2 separate regions of the Homo sapiens genome follow, and region 2 is reported to be linked to region 1. Evidence: microRNA targets listed by miRTarBase, many of them from high-throughput screens and not tested one by one. Region 1 holds a microRNA gene; the other region holds the end of a gene's coding sequence.

Region 1 (8,460 bases):
ACTTTTCCCAAAGGAAAGTTTTGAATGAAATCATTTACCATTTGAATGAGCTCATATCCAAAAGGAGCACCCATTTGGATAGAGCCGATCAGTCTGCAGTATATACAATTTCACTTTGCTTACTGGTCATCTCCATTTTTTTTCCAGGCTACATATTTTTCTTATTTCAGCCTTCTAAACTCCCTGTTCTCTGCAGCCTATTTAATTGACTTTCATATCAAAGGAAAGTGAAAGCAAAAATAGGTTTTACTTATAATCAACATGCATTTACTGTTTGTCGTGATTTAGAAGCTCTTTGCTGGCACTATGGAAAGAGGCAAAAAAAAAAAAACAAAAAAAAAAAGCGTAGCCTCCATTTTTGAAATAGTTAAAGCAAGCCAGATCCACATAAAATAAGAAAACAGTAATTCTAGAACAATGTATAGATATTCTACAGTGATACGGGGTGGATTGAATACATTTATACAAAGGAGGCAAATTAAATTGGTGTTCTATTGAGTTGGAGTTAATGAGGATGTACAGAGAGAAAACAGTCAATCATTTCTGTGGCAAGCGCCATGTTAGGTGCTCCTATAGAGTATCTAAAGAAAATGATGTCTGAGTTAGCTCAAGAAAATGGTAATGGACTCAGATTGGCAAAGAGAAAGGCAGGCAAGTGGTTCTCATCAGAATCACCAGGTCCTTAAAAAAAAAAGCACAACACAACAAAACAAAAAAACCAAAAAAACCCCAAAACTTTTGTGTCCAGGCCGCACCCTCAGCGATTCTGCCTCAATTCCTCAGGGTGAGCAGCCCAGGTGTCCAGCTTTATGAAGGTTCCCAGGGCAATCTATTTTGCAACCTGGGCTGAAAACCTCTGCTTTAGGGCAAAGGCTGGATGATGACTATGCCCAAGTCCTGGGTGGAGAGAGGCAGGCCTGCGGTATTTCTTCTTCCGGATTGCAATGGAAACATGACTTCCCCCAATTTGCCTAGGATGAGAGTAAAGTGAATGCATTGGGTTGTGAACATGTGAACGTTTGCCTGGGGAGGGTCAAGGTGAGGATTTGGGAGAAATAATCTTTTGAGATCTTATAGAACTGCTGAATGCTGACACTGGGGTATAGAATTAGGAAGAAACTTAGAGATTTTAAACAAAAATAGTGGTCTCTGAGGAATTAAATGTATGGAGTCGTAAAGCTGGCAGAAGATAAAGGAGTGAAAAAAGTCTGGAAACAGACAGCTCAGGGCTTTAGGGTCAGTGGTGTCCCTTTGTAAAAACTGCTTCAATTCAACCTCATTTGTAAATGGGCATACTCATAGTAGCCCTGTGTGTCTGTTGGGAAGGTGATGTCACCAAGCCTATATTATAAAAATCGTAAGATGTTCATTTTACTTCTTCCTCTTTCTTTGTCCTTGTCTTCCTCCATGCATGTTTGCTTGCACATAGTCATTTCGTTAGAGGGTAGTCATTAATAAGTGATTAACTTCATATCCTGACCCCCAGGGGCTGTCTGCAAGATTAATGAACTGGTTTTTCTTTTAAAGAACAATGATCCTTAGGTCATGGAGACCTCCTTGATGGCATCCAGAAGTTCGATTGGCTGAGGGACACAAGCAGCTTTCATCATCAGAGAATCTCACCTCCCACATATCTACCTTACTCGTAAAAGCCCCCCAGTTATGTTCAAAGACAGGTGGGGTTTGAGAGGTGCCTCTCGCACCCTCATGCTGTAGCCAATTTGAATAACCTTTCTGTGCTCCTAAGCACTGATGTGTCAGTGTTTGGCTTACTGGCATCAGGTACTCAACCTAAATCTGCAACAGTATGAGATAACATGCAGAGAGCACAGAGTGCCATGCCTGCCACGCAGAAACCAGTAAGCATGAGTTAGTGTTACTATTGTTGTTTGAAAGGATCAAGATTCTGTGTAAATGAGTCACAGGTATCCCAGATGCAGGATTTGCATAGCTGCTATAAAGAGGGTTTCCCACTGAAACTGGTGTAGGCATAAAGAACCCTGTGTTTCTCGTACAAAGGGAATTGAGAGAAACCACTTCATCCTTAACCTGCAGGGAGCTGGAGGAAGAAAGACCTGGAAGAGGCGACCAAAGTGAATGCATGGGTGCCAAAGGTTGGAGACCAGGACAAGGAGGAAGTGGGTTAGAACAGATGGAACTTGGGTGAGGTCTGTATCTATTTTGGAAACTGAAGCCCAGAACTGGGGCCACAATGGGGCAGGCTTTCACTTGCTCCCATTTATGAACCAACCAGCACCATGGGAAGAACGGGGTGGGATAGACTGAGAGACAACTGAATTGTATGCATTTTTGCTTTTTGGCTGATTATTCCAACTCAGGATTACACGAACTAATGCATGTGAAAGCATTTCCTAAATAACAAAACACTATGCAAATAGAGTATTAACATTTTTCTTCTGTGTAGAATTTATACCTAGAGATTCCCTCAAGTGATACTGAAGTAGTTTCTGCACTTCAAGCAGGTGTCTGAGCACAGTGCATAGAGGAGGGTCTGTGGGACTGGGAGTGGCCAAGGGAGGAGCCGAGCAGGGCTGGAAGAGCTGACCCAAGAGGCAGCTCTTCTGTGGATCCCAAGCCTGGAGCAGCAGAAGTTATGCTGAGGTTTTGCCAAACATCCCCAGAGTCTTCTGTTTGGAAGTTTCAAGGATATGCATTTTGTTAGTAGGGTTAGATGAGGTGAAAATGCGAAGCTGGTGATAAACGAAAGTTGTGCTTCAAGAGTTTGGCTCCTAGTCCATGTTTATTAATTGTTTGCTGAAATGAAGACAAGTGTGAGATGGTAATATAACACTAAAGTGTGCTAATAAGTCCATGGTGCTATGCTGAAAGTGCAAATAAGACCTTGCAAGTAAGTCCATGGTGTTTTGGATTTGATGTTAGCGGTAGCAGAAAGCCACTAATATAAGCCTTGAATGGTGTTCAGGGATCTTGTAAACTACTGAAAAGTGAGGAAATAAATGTATGTCCAAGGTCATTCATTTATTTAGCGGCCTTTAAAGAGGAACATTTTCACTGTGAGATAATAGTTGCTGTAGTGACTTATTTAAGCAAGATTACAGGCTCTTCTCTAAACAGGGCTGCACCTCTCCATTCACGGCACAAGAATGCACAATAGACTGGATTTTGAAATCAGTCTGCCTTCTGCTAACCAAGCCATGCACCCTAGTGTAGGGCTGCATCTCCTCAGAGAAAAGGACACATTTTTCCACTTTGCACAAAGGCATCCAATGGGGTAATGGCGGCCCTGTCTTGAACAATCTAAAAACACAATGCATGCTTTTCTGCTTAGACAACTTCTCAGGGTCACTTTCAGACACTGGGCTAAGAACCAATGAAACAAGCAATAAAGCTGAAGAAAAAGAAGATAAAAAACAATCAAAATGTAAGATAGAGGAAATGAAAAAGAACAGCAAAGTGAGCTGAATCATGAACAGCAGGAAATCTCGAGATAAGTGGAGGCTGTCCCTACATATTTCTGGTACTTTGAGTAAACATGGAGAGAAAGTTCACAGTGACCTAATCAGAAGCAGAAATGAAAATGGGGCAAAATGCCATGTGGGGGCATTTTGCAATAAGAAGCAACAGGAGTCTGGCACCTAAATCCAGCAACTGTGTAGCCAGGGTTGGAAAAAGTCCAGGTTACCAGCAACATGCCTGTTTTTTACGGAGAATGAGTGAAATGAATATGCTCCCAATGGTCCTCTGAGTTCTTCACATTCATCCCAACTCCCTTGCTCCTCTGCTCCAGCACTGCAGTGGAACTGGATGGCTACAGCTTACATTGCACGTTTCAATTTGGGCGATGGATGAGAACTTCTGTACTATGTTTGCATCTGCAAGACTCTGCTACTCTTGTTTTTAACTTCTGGATGTTCAGGTACACATTGAAAAAAGGAAGTCCTTAACTCTGAGAAGCAGTATCGTCCTGAAACTACCTAAGAAATGGCTCAAATCCTTTCAATTTCCAAGGAAAGCAAAAGTTACACATTAGAAACTGAGATGACAATACCTAAGCATATAATTTCATTGAGATAGATTAGATTAGCTTCAGGGACATATATGGCTCACAGTATATTCCATGCTTCTCCATAGGCCAGGAAGATTTGCAGCTAACACCCTTCCTGAATTCTTGTCCCTATAGGGCTTTTGTGTGGGACATCATTGATCCCTATGAGTTCCAGCTGAGGAATTTATGACATATTCTATTCCCCCCTGAGATTAGCCTTTAATAATTTATTTATTCATCCAACATTTAAGAGACCCCAATGGTGTTAGATGCTGGGAACCCAAAGACAACTAAGGCAAGATCACTGTCCCCAAAGTCCTTAGTAAGGGGAGATAAGACATGTAATTTTTAAAAGCCACAAAATGCTATGGTGCCATGACAGAGGTATGTCTGGGGAACAGAAGGGACTCCAAGAAGGAAGAGGTGCTTCCAGGTAAGACAAACTGTGGAAATAAAGCAGCTATAGGGCAAAGAACTTGTTGCAGTCAGGAAGATGCAGGTAGATCAGGTGACCAATTACAATCCTGTTCTTGGAGCTGGTAGGATAAAGGACAGACCCAGGTGGAAGAGGCGCAGGTGAAAGTTTTGCTCCTTCTGGGGTCTTCCTCTACATTTTGACCCAGGCCCGTCTAGGTGGAAATGTAGAGGAAGACCCCAGGAGAAGCATAACTTTCCTTTAACCCATATATCACAAGACTTGGCTGCCTTATGATGAAGCTATAGTTCCCAAATATGTCTTCAATGAAGAAAATTTAATGTTTAGGAATTCTAGAACTTGCAGAGTTGGGAGTTGCCTGGGAGATGAAATGTTCTCTCCATCACCTCCAGCCCTTGGTGCTGAGTTCATTAGCATGTTTAGTTCTAATTTTAGCTATGAAAAAATATATTTTAAAATATTGACACATTTATTATTTAGTGCTGGATTTAACTGTTTACACTTTCACTGATAAAAGATTAAAAATATGTCTTACTATATACTGCTGCCTATAGTTAAAACAGCATCCCTGTTTCTCTTTTTCTCTCTTGTTCTCTATTTTTGAAACTGAGTTAATAATCCCCTTGATGTAGAGATGGGGGATTTTCATCAGTACCAGATCATTTCACCTGCCTTTTCTCCTCCCTGAGATTTCCAATTTCCTGGTGCTTCCTTTTCACTACATTTACCACCCATTTCTTGGTTTTAGGTAAGATCCCATGGTCTCTCCCTATGAACACTATCTCTCACATAGTGTCAGCATTTCTAACTTCTTACCCTGGAGCTATCCACCTGGATCTTTCACCTAAACTCCTGAGTGCTTCTGGAGAAGGTAAAGATCTGTTTTGAGATGAATCTCAAACACTGTTAAGTAGGGCAGCATTTCTAAAGTCCACAGAGCAGCACAGTGGTCCACCTTCAAGTGTGATAGGCACTACCCACTACCTCCCCAAGAGCCATTTTCCCTTCTTTCAGTGTGTTCAGGTGGTAAGGAGAGATCTTTGCTTCCAAGGAGAGTGGTCCCCGACTCCAGGATAGGCCTAACCAGTCATGGAAATCTCCTTCCCTTTATCAATTGGTTGTTCTTGGTTTGGGCATTTGACCTTGTTCTGGCCAATAGGATATAAAAAGAAATCAGCTGGAGATATCCTAAGTAAAGACAAGATTTTGTGCTGTGTTAATTTCCTTGGGCTGCCATCACGAAGTATCACAAACTGGGTAGATTACAACAGAAATGTAGTATCTCACAATTCTGAAGGCCCTCAGACTGAAATAAGGTGTCAGCAGGGCCATGCTCCTTCTGAAAGCTGTAGGGGAAAAAACCTTTTCTTGTCTCTTCCTGGCTTCTGATGCTTGCCAATGAAGGGGTTTGGATTATGCCACCCCACAATATGCCACTCTGGCATATGGATTATTTTGACTTGAAGGCAACTGAGAAAAAGCAGACCCAGGATGAGATCTCTGTCCGCCTCCTATCTGCCTGAAAACAGAACATAAGCTCCCCTTGTGAAAGTGCCCCCCTCTACCCCCCTACCAGTAAAGGGATAACATAAAGGGACAACACCTTATCACTGGAGACAAGATGTCATCCAGAGGAATCTACAAAAACAAAACGTATTAACTAGCCCTCATCTACCATAAGTTTCCCCATATATTTGCCTTCCCACAATTTGCTGCCCCTAGAAGCTCAAAGTCATTTTCCTTTGTCTTGCCACTTCTCTACAAAATTATTGTTCTTTGCTCAATTCTATGTAAGTTCAAGTTCTTTTTTTTTTTCTTTTTTTTTAGACGGAGTCTCACTCTGTCACCCAGGCTGGAGTGCAGGGGCGCGATCTTGGCTCACTGCAACCCCTGCCCCCTGGGTTCAAGCAGTTCTCCTGCCTCAGTCTCCTGAGTAGCTGGGATTACAGGGGCGTGCCACCACATCTGGCTAATTTTGTTATTTTTAGTAGAGATGGGGTTTCACCATGTTGGTCAGGCTGGTCTCAAACTCTTGACCTCGTGATCCGCCCACCTTGGCCTCCCAAAGTGCTGGGATTACAGGTGTGAGCCACTGCACCAGACTAAGTTCAAGTTCTAACCACTCCTTTGAATTACTTATTACTGAATACTCCTATGTGTATGTGCAATGCATATTTCAATAAACTTGTTTGTTTTTCTCTTGTTAATCTGTCTTTTGTCAGTCTAATATACAGTCTTTTTTTTTTTTTGAGACTGAGTCTAGCTCTGCTGTTGCCCAAGCTGGAGTAGTAGTACCACGATTTCAGCTCACTGCAACCTCCACCTCCCAGGTTCAAGCAGTTCTGCTGCCTCAGCCTCCTGCATAGTTGGGATTACAGGTGCCTGCCACCAAGCCCAGCTAATCTTTGTATTTTCAGTAGAGATGGGGTTTCAACATGTTGGCCAGGCTGGTCTCGAACTGCTGGCCTTAAGTGATCCACCCCCGTCAGCCTTCCAAAGTGCTGGGATTACAGGTGTGAGCCACCGTGCCGGGCCACTCTAATATGCAGTCTAATTTTCCCTAGCTGGAGAACCTAGGATGGGTACAGAAAAGGTAATTATTTTCCTCTCCTACACCAGCAATACTTGGCATTCCTCGGCTTGCAGCTTCAATACTTCAACTTCTGCCTCCTTCTTCACAGGGCTGTCTTCCCTCTGTGTGTGTCTCTGCCTTCACATAGCGTTCTCTTCTTGTGTCTGTCTCTGTTTTTTCTTTTTGTAAGGACATCAGTTATTGGATTAGGGCCCACCCTGGTTCAATATGACCTCATCTTAACTAATTACATTTGCATTCCAAATAAGGCCACATTTGCAGGTATCTGGGTTAGGATATCAACATATCTTTTTTGGGGACACAGTTCAATCCATATAAAGGCCTTTTGCTCCTGCCTTTCATCTACCTGGAGATGCAGCAACATCTTGTGACTATGAGGCTACAAACATGAGGAAACAAGTTTACAAGCTAAAGCTGGTGGAAAGGAAAGCTAGGGAAAAAGAAGGAGTCTGACAGCATTACTACACAGTTGAACTACTGCCAGCAACCACTCACCTCTAGACCTCTTGCTAGGTAAGAAAAATAACTCCAGGTTACTTAACCTCTGCCAGGTTTCTTTCACCTGTAGCCAAAAACATTCCAATGCATACACAAAACTTTCCCTAGTTCATAATAAAATTAGAAAAATAAGTAAGGTAATAAAATTTTCATAGATCTGGATTCATTAAATTTAAAGGACTAATCTTTGTTCTGAAATTATGTTATTCCCACTTTTAAAAAATTAAAATATCCTTTCTTTTATGAAATGACGGTATTTGTAGATTGTAATTTTTTTTTTTTTTTAGTGTCTTTGGTAAAAGAAGGAAGGAAAAAGGGAAGGGAAAAAGGAAGGAAGGAAGGGAAGAAAAAAGATTTCAGAAAGTCTTTCTCTAATTTTTAAAAATTCTTTTACTTAGCTTGTGAAACTCAAAAGTCTGTGATGAGAAGAATGCTAGCTAAACTTGCTTTGAAGGGCTAGAACCAGTGGTGTGTGCTGGAGCTGCTGGCAGCAGTTACCGAGAGCAGATGGTTAAATTTCCAGGAAGCTACTTGGCATCACCTGGATGGTTTGAAATCCAATGTGGCGGGAGTATTTGCATCATGGAAATCTGCAAATGCTATAAATCAAACCACCTCCCCTTCCCCAGCTGGTCGTTTACCAGCACACCACTGTCTCCAGCCTGCCTCTTGCAAGTAGCCAGAGGGTAAGCATGCAAGGTACAGCTCACACCAACTAAAACACACATGGGATTGAGGTAAACTTCATTTACTAATTTATACATTTACAATGGAAAATATTCTTGGCCTGGTGCGGTGCAATCCCAGCACTTTGGGAGGGCCAAGGTGGGAGAATCGCTTTAGCCCAGGAGTTCAAGACCAGCCTAGGCAACATAGGGAGACCCTTTCTCTACAAAAAAGAAAAAG
Region 2 (7,730 bases), not on the chromosome of region 1:
AATGGAGGGAAGCAAGTTGGCCAATTCCTGGTACAGAGAAATGTCAGTCATCAGAAGATATTTGAGGATCTGCTATGCTCTAGACACTGTGCATACTACACAGTGGTACATAAAGCAAGCATAGGCTCTGCCCCCATACAGAAGGAAATATAAGGGAATCAATCTGGTATCAGATGGTACCTGGGGATTTACCAAGTGCTTTGATAACAGCCTAAGTGAGCTCATCTGATAGGGACACAACTGTCGGGGGAAAGCCCCTACAGGCCTAAGAATCACCACAAAGTTTTTCTTTTTCATGCAAAGTAAGTGGCAATAACCACAATCTGTTCCTTGTTTAACAAGGCAAGCCGTTACTTGAAACAAGGTAAGATATAAAGTCTACAAATCATTCTTGCTTCTTTTTGTCTTCATTTGTTAAAATTGGAAAATTTTCATTGTGGAATATAACCCACATACATGAAAGTGCATAAAGCAAATGAATATTTTAATGTATTATTACAAAGTGAACTAACAGGTAACCAAAGTGGAGCTCAAGAAACAGAAAATTGCAAGCACTGCAGAACCACCTCCACCCACGGGATCACAACTTGAGACCATCTTAACTTCGCTTTCATGGTAAATGGTTTTCCGCGTGTTTTTATATGGATTCACTATTTAAGTATACATCCCTAAATTATATGGCTTGTCTATTTTTAAACTTCATATAAATGGAATCATCCAGTATGTTTTATGTGTGCATCTTTTGACCAATATTACAAATTTAGAATTCACACAACAGTAGGCTAGTTAGGCAGCTGTGCTAATCTTAGCTGAATTCAGTTGGCCTTTAAATTCAGGCCATGGGTTTTTGACCAGTTCTGATCAACTCCATGTGGCTCTGATTCATCTGGTACCCATGGACAAACTGAGGCATGCTCTTTTTCATGGTGATGGCAGAGGCGCAAGAATAAGCCCAATTGCTCAAACCTATTTCAAGCCTTTGCTTATGTCCACTAACATTCCATTGATCTTGGCAAGTCACATGGTCAAGCCTAACATCAAGGAGCAAGGAAATGCACTCGTTATTGGGAAACGGAGAGGACTGAATATTTGCTGAATAAATCCAAACTGGCACAGCACATCTATTCAACATGGTACTAGAAGTCCTAGCTAGTGCAGTAAGACAAATAAATGGATGGAAAGAAATAAAAGTTACTGCTCACGAGTGATATGAATGTAGACACGGAAAATCCAAAAGAATTGGCATATATGAGTTTGGCAACGTGGCTAATAAAACCAATATTAAAAAGTCTATATACCTATATTTCTATATACCAGCAAAAGGAAGTTAGAAAATAAAGCTGTAAAAATGTATTATATAAAAGCATTTTAGGCCGGGTGTGGTGGCTCATGCCTGTAATCCCAGCACTTTGGGAGACGGAGGCAGGTGGATCACCTGACGTCAGGAGTTCGAGACCAGCCTGGCCAACATGGTGAAAACCTGTCTCTACTAAAAATACAAAAATTTTAGCTGCTCATGGTGGCGGGCACCTGTAATCCGAGTTATTCGGGAGGCTGAGGCAGGAGAATCACTTGAACCCAGGAGGCAGAGGTTACAGTGAGCCGAGATGGCGCCATTGCACTCCAGCCTGGGTGACAGAGCAAGACTCTGTCTCAAAAAAAAAAAGCATTTTAAAATAGTACCTGGGAATAAGTATAACAAAAGATGTGTGGTATCACTATGAAGGCTATAATTCTATTGAAATATTTTTTAAAACTATATAGGTATATAACATACTCTCAGATTGGAAAAAACTGTTTTCACATTTATCTTACAGATTTAATGCAATCTATAGAGTCAAAGCATTTATTTTTCTCATTAATGGTCTGTCCCTAGAGGGAAATGATCTGCATCAAACTGCTCCATAGGTCTCCAGTCTTTCTAAATTTGATTCCAATGTTTTACTGTTAAGTGTATTTGTTGTAGTTTATAAGGATATACTTTATAAAATTAATCACTATTTCTCATTTACTATTTTTTAAACATAAGTGGTGAATTTTTATCAAATGTTTTTTCTGCATCTAAGACCATCATGATTTTCAAATGTTAATATGAAAAATTACTTAGTTTTATTCTGGTGATCAACTGAACTGAGCCATAATTGATCACATATTAAAGCAATATATCTATATATGCAGGTCATTAATATATTTAGTAAGCTTCCAGATTCAGTATGCTAACATTTTGTTTATAATTATTGCATCTAAAGTGACATTGGCATACAATTTTTTTTCACACTGTTCTTGTTGAGTTTTAGTCATCAAGGTTATGATAGTCTCATGAATTGCAGTCTACACTCTATCATTTGCAAGAGTTTGTGAAAAGCGATTTTACTCCTTAGTGTGTCATTCAGCTCACTGATGCAAGCCATATAGAACTGCAGTTTTTAGTGGAAAGGGTTTGAATTGCTAATTCAGTTTAATAGGGCTAGGACTTTCCCCCTTCCTTGTACAGTTTTGGTAAGCTGTATTTTTCTAGAAATTTTTGTATTTCATTAAAATTTTCAAATTTTTGAAAAAATTAATTTTCACCATCTGTAGAATTTGTAGTGATGTCCCATATTTCATTGACATTATTGCTTTCTCTTTTATTCTTAACTAGTATCAAGTTTATCAATACTAGTCTTTCCAAGCAAAAGCTTATTTCTGTTGATCTCATATGCTTGTTTTCTATTCTATGCATTTTAAGCACTTATCTTTAATTCTTTAATATTTCTTTGTCTATTTTCTTTACGTTTATTGTGTTCTTCATCAAACTCCTTAAGATGGATGTTTTGTCTTTAATTTCCAGCCTATTTTCGAATATATACGTATATTTAAACCTATAATTAGCACTAACTTTAATAAAGTTAGTACTAACATATTAACGTAGCCTTATCCAACCAGATCCACCTATTTTTATTTCAAAGTAAGATATACACACATACACACACACACACGCACACAGAAATGCTATGCAGCTGTAAAAAAATGATGTATTAACATGTAAATAGATCCACTTTATGATGGATAATAGAACTTTTACGTAAAGTTAAGAATAAAACAGCGCAGTTTAGCATGAATTATTCCTACTCTTTGTAAGAAGGGGCAGGTGGAGGTGGTGGCATCTTTTTAAATAAAGGAAATTTTCAGTCTCATAACCACTTGTTTCTCATTCAACACTGTAAATAGGTAATCAGCAGTTAACAAGTCAAGAAAATCAAAACTTTTTTCTGTATATTCTGATTTACCTACAGCAACACGATAAGAAAAATAAGAAAAATGTTTAATGAGCATGAATGACTAAATGAGGGAATATGGAAAAAAAGAAGTATCAACAGGAAGGCTTACAACAATTTCAACATGTTTTTTATTTGCTCACTTAACATTCCAAACAAAATGACATTTTACACTATTGCTTTTACTTAAGAAGTCAACTGCCTTATCCAAAGTAGACAAAAATCCCAATTCCTTTAAGTGTCCAAGTGGTACTTTTTCCCCCAGAGAAAGCTACTTGAATACTTTAACAGAAACATAGAATCGTCCTATAATAGTAAGGTAGTAGTTGGGTCTAACCTGTACTACATTTAAAACTTTTCTCATTAAAAAATGAATACAGAAAAAAACCCCAAACACCTCCAGTCATCATTCCTCTCAGATTTTTAACAATTCCACTAACCTTCATTAAAAATTGCTTTTGTAGAGAGGTGTATAAATATGAAAATGGAAAGTAAGCCTCCCCACACCTGTTCATAGAGAAGTGGGGTAGAGCATTTATCCTGAGAAAACTGCTGCTGGTCCCTGTTATTTCAAAAAGGATAATAAACATTATGGCCCACCAAGTCAAACCTCCTATCTTCTGTGCCATGATCATGTGTAACCTTTTCTGTTCTGGCTACGAGCATCTACTTTTCACACTCATGCGATTCTTCTCCTTTGAGCAAATCTTTGATGAAGTTGTATTTCACTGAATGTTCTCAAAGGGGAGAAAGAGTGCATGAGCAATTATAGTACTGGAACAAAAGTGAAGAGTACATATATTTTCACGTAGAAAAAATACATACAAATCCAAGTAGCTCCTAAAAATAGAAATCAGATGGGCATTTTTAAGAAAAAGATTGTTTTCTAAACTGTAAATGGTGCCAGTAAGACACTGATTTTTATATCTAGCTACATCACCATATTTATGTACAAAGAGAGGTTGGTATAGGTTCACTGATACCCCCAATTTCTCCCATTTCTTTAAAGATTGTCTTTCAGATCCTATTAAAACCATAACTGTTAATTTTTTAGACTACTTCCTGTCACTGGCACACTCTCTTCAACCTGGCACATACAAAAATTCATTTCAACATCTATTTACTTTTTTGATGCTAAAACTAACAATTTTTCGGCTACTTCAATGCCACAATATTCTATCACTACTTTGGCATTTTACTAATTATTATAGAAACAGGTAAGATTCTAAATATGGATTTTAAGACTATGTAAAATTCCAACTACATATGTCAAAAGGGAAAGTAGGAAGGTAGACACAATTATATTTTTGTTTTCATGTATATCATTGTCATGAGTCTGAAGCCTCATGTTGCATTCTAATTTACAACTGACATTGGTGACAGTTTGCTTGGCTTCTAGACTCAAACCCTAGAATTTATTAGTGGCTTTTAGATCAATTTGCTGTAAAACTATCTGAAATGGTTGCAGATTATTTTAAGCAAAAACAGAATGATACCTATAATGTACAAATGGAGGTGGATTTAAAGAACATATTATTGAGCAAGCTCTATAATGACATTTTCTTAACATCATCATAGTTTTTCTTCCTAGAAGGGAAAAAACTTACTTAAAATTTTCCCCTTCTTTACTTAAAGCATTCTTAAGTATATTGACAAATGTTTAAATCAGTTCAAGCTCTCAGCTGTTGGAAGATCAAAACACAAAGATAAGCATTTTCAACACAAACATCAAAAGATGAACAGAATTGCTTTCCATGTAATAGTTAATACCTTAATACAATGAACTTGTCAGGATTTTGCGACATATTGTATAGCTGGACAATAAAGCATGAAAATATTTTTTAAAAATTAAGTGAAGATATTCCCAAAGTTGAGATGTCCCCTACAAGAAACCAATTTTTAAATTCCTGTAATACTGAAAAGCTAAATTGCCACTATTGTAATAAAGTGAACCAAATTTTTAAAATAATTTTATCTTATTGAGAAACTAATTTTAACGCAAGCACTTTAAATGTATGTGCTATACAACACTGCATCTTATTTTCCAATTGGATATGTCTTACCACTCTTCTAACAAGTTTGAAAGAAAGAGGTCTGTCAACAGACACGAGCAAATACTTATAAAGTCTCAGGTCTTGCTCTATCACATACTAGCCAGTCCTTAAACACTTGATATATACCCACATTAAAAGGTGTGCTAAATATCGTCATGTTTTAGATGAAATTATGTCCTTAAAAGGTTGGTTTCTGTAGGATTTAAGGAGAACTTAAACTTTGCTGCTTTAAACTTTAGTTTTGCTATCAGTACAAATGTGTAAAACGCACCAAGAAGAAATCATTCCCATAAAAATCTCATCACTATATAATCGTTGACAGCACTTGCTGCCCTCCTGAGATTTTAGGAGAATAAAACTATATAAAATGCACAGTCATCAAGTCATCTTCAAGCTATTTTAGTATCCCACAAACCATTAACATAAAGTTCATACATGGTTATCTAAAAACACCATGGAGTCAAAGAGAAGCAAGAGTTAACAGTAAGTCAAATAAACCAATGATGTTTAACTGAGATTTTTTTAAAACTTAAGCTTTCTTAAGTTTCAAAGACAGTTTTACTTAAACAGAAACTGTCTTTTATAATCTTTTTGTCTTTTATATAATCAAGATTTTCTTGGCAAATACATCTCTTTTCGTAAACATACATAGGTAGAGAAGTTTCATATGTAGGTAGAGCGGTTTCATAAGCATACATAGGTAGAGAAGAAAACACTAAGGTTCTTTTCTACAACTGATAAAAAGCAAATACTGAAGATGAGAAAATGCCTTTAAGCTTTCAAATAACACTGTGGCATTTTAAAGTGTGTTATTTAAAAACAAAAAAGCTAGTCACCAATACTGTCATTCTCTCATCAGTTATGCTCAATAATCACAGAAACCCAAAAGGAGGCCCTAATTCTTTATTCTCTCTGCTGTATCTCTGCTCTATTTGCTACTAATGAAGCAACGTTATGACATGTAATTAAGATGCAAACAAAGAAAACCATAAAGAAACACTTGCTGTTAATTAACCTAGAAATAAAAATCAGACAAAATTAAAAACAGCCATTTCCAAACTAAAAACCAAAAAAATCTTAAAGAGCTTTGAAAAAGATACCAACTTGACCCTATAACACATAAAAACGAAAATTGATTTTACACATTTTAATCAATTTAATACAAATACCTGATTTATACTTTTACACCAACGGGCTAAGTCCCAAGTTCCAAACTGTAGTTCGCATGACTCTACAGAGGGGATCTTTGGAAGGATAAGGTACCTTTGGAGAACAGTGTATAAACAATTGTAAACATACACTGATTGTCCACTAGCTTTCTTAAATAGAATTTCTGAAATATTTTTGTAGGAAATTATATATAAGAGTGTAATTGATCAGATAATTCCTATTACAACATATAAATTCTGTTGAATGTGCAAAATGTGGTAGAAATAGAAGATACAGTGGATGATTTATACTTTTAAAGTAAGTGCTACATTACAATCCAGTAAAAGTCCTTTAATCTTTTCATGAAACTTCTCTCTATACAAATTGAAATACATAATGCTTTCTGGTTCTTCTTCAAACCAAAACTTGTCAAATTCATAGACAAGATAACCTGCAGTTAAAGAAAAACAAAACATTTAATCCTCAATGTTGAAATCACATTCAAACCGTCTCATCTTTACAAAGTATATAACCATCCTTTAAATTCCATATTAGAATACAATAATCAAAAGTAATCTCAAAACTATTAGAAGCCTGAGGGACTTAATAAGACTTAATAAACGATTTAGTGTATATTTACTATTTGTCTCAAAAATCAACAACGTCCCTCAAGTTTAAAAGATATAGTACTTTCACCTGGGAGCAGTGACTCATACCTGAACTCTCAGCACTTTCAGAGACTTAGGTGGGCAGATCGCTTGAGGCCAGGACTTAAGAGACCAGCCTGGGCAACATGGTGAAACCCCATCTCTGCAACAAACACAAAAATTAGCCAGGCATGGTGGCATGCGCCTATTGTCCCAGCTACTTGGGAGGCTGAGGTAAAGGTATCACTTGAGCCCAGGAGGTCAGGGCTTCAGTGAGCCGTGATTGTACCACTGCATTCCAGCTTGGTTGAGAACCTATCTCAAAAAAAAAAAAAAAAAAAAAAAAAAAAAAGATGTAGTACTTTCAAAAGATACCTTGAGAAAAGTTTCCCGAGAAACTTCCAAAGCACAAAAATGCAAGTAACGAAAAAATGTTGGATAAGGTTAAAGTGTAGGAAAGTTATTTCCTACTCGATTTCTAAATCTAAGAGTTATTTCTACTTTTTTTTCAATGAACTATCAGCATCTTCTCTTTTTTAAAAAAATACATCCACTCTAAATCGGCTTAATATTTTTGGCTTTCAATATCCTCATTATGGTAGCCAAATTAACCCCCAAAATGT

What was found. The annotated mature microRNA hsa-miR-4698 reads UCAAAAUGUAGAGGAAGACCCCA and lies in region 1 at 4,623-4,645, opposite strand. An mRNA with a match to its seed (bases 2 to 7 or 8) in the 3' UTR can be bound and repressed. Matches are read on the target gene's strand: a 7mer-m8 pairs with bases 2 to 8, a 7mer-A1 pairs with bases 2 to 7 and ends in A, and an 8mer does both.
Region 2: the mRNA of ELMOD2 is a reported target of hsa-miR-4698. Seed matches in the 3' UTR shown: 7mer-m8 at 6,730-6,736 and 7mer-m8 at 3,414-3,420.

What each region holds. Positions count from the first base shown.
Region 1 is chr12:47,184,045-47,192,504 of GRCh38, reverse strand. It overlaps MIR4698 (microRNA 4698), which reads right to left and starts at 4,693; the gene lies at 4,614-4,693. The region is part of intron 2 of PCED1B (PC-esterase domain containing 1B); the gene reads right to left.
Region 2 is chr4:140,549,411-140,557,140 of GRCh38, reverse strand. ELMOD2 (ELMO domain containing 2) reads right to left here. Exons shown (of 9, transcript NM_153702.4): 9 at 3,371-6,911. The coding sequence ends at 6,766. Among named protein-coding and RNA genes, the nearest start is that of UCP1, 16 kb to the left of the region's middle.